2 linked regions of the Homo sapiens genome follow. The protein of the gene in region 2 purifies or fractionates together with the protein of the main gene of each other region. This does not show direct contact. Each region holds a gene or a part of one and is shown on either strand. Other genes may lie near its edges. The genes, in order: KGD4 and TCAIM.

Region 1 (3,827 bases), on a different chromosome or scaffold from region 2:
GCACTGTACTCCAGTCTGAGTGACACAGCAAGACTCTGTCTAAAAAAAAAAAAAAAAAAGTATTCCTATGGGTATAGGAAAAAGACTAAAATAAAGTGCTATCAAATGTTTTAATTTGGGCCGGGCATGGTGGCCCATGCCTGTAATCCCAGCACTTTGGGAAGCCGAAGCAGGTGGATCATTTGAGGTCAGGAGTTCAAGACCAGCCTGGGTAAAATGGGGAAACTCCATATCTACTAAAAATACAAAAATTAGCGGGGTGTGGTGGCGCAGGCCTGTAATCCTGGCTACTCAGGAGGCTGAGGCAGGAGAATTGCTTGAACCTGGGAGGCGGAGGTTGCAGTGAACAGAGATTACGCCACTACATTCCAGCCTGGGTGACAGAGGAGACTCCATCTCAAAAAAAAAAAAAGTCTTTTATTTGTTTTACGTGGGTCTTGGGATTATAGTGTTTTCTTCTTTGTGCTCTTCTGTGTTCTTCCAAATGTTTTACACAGAATTTGTGTTACTTTTGTAGTCAAAAAAAGTATTCTTTAATTTTCTAATTTTCAAAATGATTGTTTTTTCTTCCCTGTTAGGTATTAATATAGTAGGGAAATAACACTCAAAACAAGTCAGGAGGCCAGGTGCAGTGGTTCATGCCTGAAATCCTAGAACTTTGGGAGGCTAAGGCAAGAAGATTGCTTGTACCTAGGAGCAGGAGGCGGAGGTTGCGGTAAGGCCACATCATGCCAGTGCACTCCATCCTGGGCAACAAGCCAGACGCTGTCTCAACAAAAAATTTAAAAAGTCAGTAAATTTCTGCCGGGTGCGGTGGCTCACACCTGTAATCCCAGCACTTTAGGAGGCCAAGGTGGGCGGATCATGAGGTCAGGAGATTGAGACCACCTTGGCTAACACGGTGAAACCCCGTCTCTACTAAAAGTGAAAAAAACTAGCCGGGCGTGGTGGCACGTGCCTATAGTCCCAGCTACTCGGGAGGCTGGGGCAGGAGAATCGCTTGAACACAGGAGGTGGAGGTTCCAGTGAGCTGAGATCGTGCCGCTGCACTCCAGCCTGGGCGACAGAGTGAGACTCCGTCTGAAAAAAGAAAAAAAAAAAAAAGGCAGTAAATTTCCAGTGTTTTTTCTTTGAGATGGGGTCTCACTCTGTTGCCCAGGCTGGAGTGCAGTGGCAAGATCTGAGCTCACTGCAACCTCTGCCTCCTTGGTTCAAGTGATCCTCCCACCTCAGCCTCCCAAGTAGCTGGAACTACAGGCACATAGCACCACATTTTTTTTTTTTTTTTTTTTGAGACGGAGTCTCGCTCTGTGGTCAGACTGAAGTATGGTGGCACTATCTCTGCTCACTGCAACCTCTGCCTCCTGCGTTCAAGCGATTCTCCTGCCTCAGCCTCCTGAGTAGCTGGGATTACAGGTGTGCACTACCACCATGCCCTGCTAATTTTTGTATTTTTAGTAGATACGAGGTTTCACCCTGTTGGTCAGGCTGCTCTCGAACTCCTGACCTCGTGATCCACCTGCCTCAGCCTTCCAAAGTGCTGGGATTACAGGTGTGAGCCACCATGCTCAGCCACCTTTTTTTTTTTTTTTTTTTTTAAGATGGAGTCTCACTCTGTAGCCCAGGCTAGAGTGCAGTGGCACGATCTCAGCTCACTGCAACCTCTGCCTCCGGAGTCCCGGTTGGTTCAAGCAGTTCTCCTGCCTCAGCCTCCCAAGTAGCTAGGATTACAGGCACGCATCACCATGCCCAACTAATTTTTGTATTTTTAGTAGAGATGGGGTTTCACCATGTTGGCCAGGCTGGTCTTGAACTCCTGACCTCGTGATCCGTCCGCCTCGGCCTCCCAAAGTGTTGGGATTATAGGCGTGAGCCATCACACTGGGCCTTGTTTTTCTTTTTGTTTTTGTTTTAATTTTTGGTAGAGACGGGGTTTCACCATGTTGCCCAGGCTGGTCTCAAACTCCTGCACTCACGCAATCTGCCTGTCTGGGCCTCCCAAAATGTTGGGATTACAGGCATAAGCCACTGCACCCAGCCAGCTTTCATTCTTACCAATCTATAAGTCATGCAACATAAACTCTACATCATCTCCTCCATTGGGTTGCTTTGAAGTGAAGTACACCTTCGATAGTACAATGAAGTCTTGTGATATATAAAGTACAAAGTTGTGTTTACCGGGTAGACAAGTTAATAATTCATAGACCAGCTTTCCTGGTTGGGGAAGAGTATAATTTAAAGTTGCTGTAAAATAGTAATTTTAACAAACGTATCTACTTATGAGGTTTAGTAGATCATTTCTTTTAGTTAATGAGATTGTTTTTCATGCATATTACTTTTCATTTAGGTAGTCAAACCACACACTCCATTAATAAGGTTTCCTGACAGAAGAGACAATCCTAAACCCAATGGTGAGTTGTATTTTATTTAAATTTCTTTTAAAATTGTGTACATGAATATTTATAAATGAGTATTTTATTATAGGCAATATTTCTCATTTTAAAATCAGTTAAGACTATTGTAGCTTAGATCAAAATAGTGCCTTATGTAGCATGCAAGTAGAAATTAACTTATGGCTGGGAGCGGTGGCTCACGCCTGTCATCCCAGCACTTTGGGAGGCCGAGGCACGCGGATCACCTGAGGTCAGGAGTTCAAGACCAGCCTGGCCAACATGGTGAAACCCTGTCTCTACTAAAAAATACAAAAAATTAGCCAGGCGTGGTGGCGGGCTCCTATAGTCCCAGCTACTCGGGAGGCTGAGGCATAGAATTGCTTGAACCCACGAGGCGGAGGTTGCAGTGAGCTAAGATCATGCCACTGCACTCCAGCCTGGGTGACAGGGCAAGACTTTGTCTCAAAAAAAAAAAAAATTATTACCTCTATTTTATTTTATTTTTTGAGACAGGGTCTTGCTCTGTCGCCCAGGCTGGAGTGCAGTGGTGCTATCTTGGCACACTGCAGTCTCCCCCTCCCGGGTTAAAGCAATTCTCGTGCTTCAGCATCCTTAGTAGCTGGGATTACAGGCATACACTAGCACGCCTGGCTAATTTTTGTATTTTTAGTAGAGACAGGGTTTCACCATGTTGCCTAGGCTGGTCTCGACTCCTGATCTCAGGTGATCTGCCTGCCTCCGCCTCCCAAAGTGCTGGGATTACAGGCATGAGCCACTCACCTGGCCTTTATTACCCCTATTTTAAAAGGTAGTGACTCAACAGAAGATGTCTCTGAATTTCTAGTGAGTTTATATGGGCAAAATTTTGTCCTACCTTTATTCTCTCCTATCCTTTAGAAGATTCTCCCATGCTTACATTTGCAGAGACTGGGAAAATAATAACCATTCCTGTTTCTCTCCTCACCAACCATCTTTTCTTTCATTCATTCATTTATCTATTCATCTAGTCAGTAAATATTTTTTGGATTGCCTTAATCCTTAGCATTTATTCAAAATTAATGGGAGAAGATTCTGAAAGGGTTCTGTTTTTCTCTGATTCCCGCCCTTTTTTAAAAAAACCAGATCCTCTGTGCCTCTCTTGATCTTTAATTCAGGCAATTTTAACACATTTTATAGGTATATTTTTAACTTATTGTAACTATTGAAGAATTAAGATGTTTAAACAAGTGTAAAGATATTGAGAAAACTACCCTCATTTACATTTACTGACTTTCTTATTCCTTATTGTAAGATATTACCTGTAAACTCCACCATGTGTTGGCCTATGAGGGGTTATGTGACATAAGCTTAAGTAGTGTAGGTTCCCCTAAAGGGTTGAATTCCACTAACTAGAAATTTCATTATTTTACATTTTTGTAATTCATTTACTTAAGA
Region 2 (2,919 bases):
ATCCATGTGACAGTAACTCAAAAGATTTAACAATGATGGCTATTGGCGTGTCTTCCAAACGTATAATTTGGCCTTTGTGGGTGGCATTTTCAGTGTTGTGAGTGCACAGTTAGGGCCCCAACATGTAAGAATATATTTACATTGTGTGTTCTTTTGTTTGGTTATGACAATATTTGTTCTTATGACAATATTTTTATTTTCTATATAATAGGTTAAAGGTTATTGAAAATGAATTGATACAGGCATCAACAAAGAAATTTTCTTTGGAGAAGTTATATAAAGAGCCCAGCATTTCTAGTATACAAATGGTGGATTGTTGTAAGAGACTTCTAGAACAATCACTGCCTTACCTACATGGGATGCACCTCTGCATTTCACATTTTTACTCTGTTATGCAAGATGGAGACCTTTGTATTCCTTGGAATTGGAAGAATGGAGAAGCCATTAAGTAACACAGAAATCTGTTTTATTTTTTTAAGAGATAAGAAAGGAACTTAAATTAAAAATATTTAAATCCACAATTTGATATAACAGTATTATTTACATAAGAACAAAGTTTCTAACTGCTGCTTTAAAAGTAGACTTTTTTAAAAAAATTAATTTCTGCTAGGAGAGGTTTTATATGCCAGGCGTGGTGGCTCATGCCTGCGGTCCCAGCTACTTAGGGAGGCTAAGATAGGAGGATCACTTGAGCCCAGGAGGCCAAGGTTGCAGTGGGCCCAGATTGCACCATTGCCCTCCAGCCTGAGCAACAGAACAAGACCTTGTCTCAAAAAATAATAATGATAATTTAAAATAAATAAGTAACTAATAAAAAGATTTTATATCCCAGTCTTATGATGTTGGTTGGCAAGGCTAGATAAAAAGATGTTAGAATGAAAGAACATATTTTTAGTGATATGTAAATGAAGGATTCTACAATAGTCATATATTTTTATATGAATGAATGTTGGGTTGGGCTGGAGAGGTATGTGTGTGTAAATATAAAGGTCTCACATTCAGAGTATAGCTCTGAAATAATGGAACTCATGTCTACAATTCAACATGCATCTGTATAGTTACATCTCATGTAAATATACACAGACATATTTTGCAGCCAGTAATTGACAGTTAATGTCCAAAACAGGTGATTGATAGGTAACAGAAATTAGATAACCACCAATTTTGCCCAAGAGAAAGACTAGAAGGACTAAAAGCAGTTGAATGTATGGTACTGACATTGTCATAAGCAGTCTGATAACCAGTTTATTGAAACGTGTGCATTAACAGAGAATTTAATTTTAAACCCATAATTTCTCCTATCCATTAAAATATTATAATTGTTAGTAGTATGAAACCAACAGGAAATGTTTTTTAATCATTTAGTGAGGTGATTCATTTGTTTCATGGGCAAACACTATCCAGGAAAAGCCTTGCTTGCCTGTTTCCCAAAGAGCTCTAAGAAATAGAATCAAGTGTAAAATGGTTCAGACCATTCAGGATTTCTTGTCACTCTTCTCAACCACGATCTTCCTGTTATTACTGATGTTTGAAACCCTGTCATTAGCCCCGGCCTGGTTAAAGCCCCTCAGAGTCACCTCTCATTCATAGCAATAGAATTCAACCCCAAGTGGTTGATGGTGTCCCCAGCACAGCCGAGAGACCTGATCTCTGGATTCAGTGCTTTTAGCTCTTCGAGTTTACCCTAAGATACCTTCGGGCAATATTTTTAACCAACCCAAAAGCTCTTCAGGTCATTTCTGAAGAGGACAAGGTGAATCTTGGCTTGGAACACCATTTTTGGGCTCTTGCTACTGAATGAATCAGAAAGGAATTTTTTCTGAAGAGCATTAGAAAGTAAAAGAGATGTTAAAATAAGTTCTTGAAGTATGTTTTATATTTATCTAAAACACTGATTTTAAAAGTTTACATTCAAATGTGTATTCAAAAGAAGTACTGATTTGTAATTATTATAGTTTGTGTGTATCATCCCTTTTAACCGTGCCTAACAACTGTACTTAAATTTTGTTTTCTAGTGTAACAAATGTTTCCCATAAGATTTTCTAGAGCCAAATAATGGGAGTGAAAAATTCCTTAAGTGTTATATAAGAAAATATATTAGAAAATCAGCTTTGGATTATACGATTTCTAAAATATACTAATACAGAATCCTCAGTAATATGTTTTGAATTGGATTTTTTCTCAGAACTGTTACATAATAAATAATACATCAACCAGATAACTGTTTTTTTCTTGTTACCCAACTGTTATTAGTTTTGGAACTATTGCAGTATAATAGGAAATGAGAAGAAATTGGTACTTGTATATGCCTGTTTGACTTCCTTTCCCACTCTAACATGAAAGAGAAAATTCTGTCCCACCACTGAAAGCTGGCACAGGAGCAGGCCCCCCTCACTGTTTCTACAAAGTCTCAGGTGAGAAGTGGTCTCCAAAGGGACCTGAGCTCCAGCTCAGGGCTAGGCCTGTCCCAAGGGAGAAACAGGCCTGCACTCCCCTGCCCAGGCTGTCCTGGCAGGAAGGCATGTGTGTTTCCCTAGGACAGGTTCTTACCAGGCCCTACTTCCTCCTTTCTCTTAAAGGACTGCACCTCCAGGTGGCCTTCCTGAGCTAATGAGAGGGTAGTGGGCTTTCAGAAGTGGCCAGGTGGGACAAAAGGGACCAGGGCTGTCTCAAGGGCCAGCTCACCTTTGGCATCTCTTGGGAGTAAGTGTATATCCCAGATAGAGGTCCCTGGAGTTAACCCCCTCCAGCTCAGGTCACTGTCCCAGCAACCTGATGCCCCTGTGTCCCCCATACTAACTTGACCTCTTTCATGGAGTCTGCCGCCCCACCCCCAGCTTCCCTGGAGAATTCTGCCCAGGCTTCCCTGGAGCAAACCAAGCAGATCAAATCAGTTCCATGGAGACTGATGGGCCCCAA

What was found.
Region 1: the proteins of TCAIM (region 2) and KGD4 purify together in Homo sapiens (affinity purification with mass spectrometry; one large-scale study listed by BioGRID and IntAct). This does not show direct contact.

Annotation. Positions count from the first base shown.
Region 1 is NC_000005.10:69,223,991-69,227,817, forward strand, and holds part of KGD4 (alpha-ketoglutarate dehydrogenase component 4), read left to right. Parts: intron 1-2,347; coding exon 2,348-2,411; intron 2,412-3,827. UniProt on the Homo sapiens protein: Molecular adapter that is necessary to form a stable 2-oxoglutarate dehydrogenase enzyme complex (OGDHC). Enables the specific recruitment of E3 subunit to E2 subunit in the 2-oxoglutarate dehydrogenase complex (OGDHC).
Region 2 is NC_000003.12:44,407,231-44,410,149, forward strand, and holds the end of TCAIM (T-cell activation inhibitor, mitochondrial), read left to right. Parts: intron 1-211; coding exon 212-452; 3' UTR 453-2,218; downstream 2,219-2,919. UniProt on the Homo sapiens protein: May regulate T-cell apoptosis.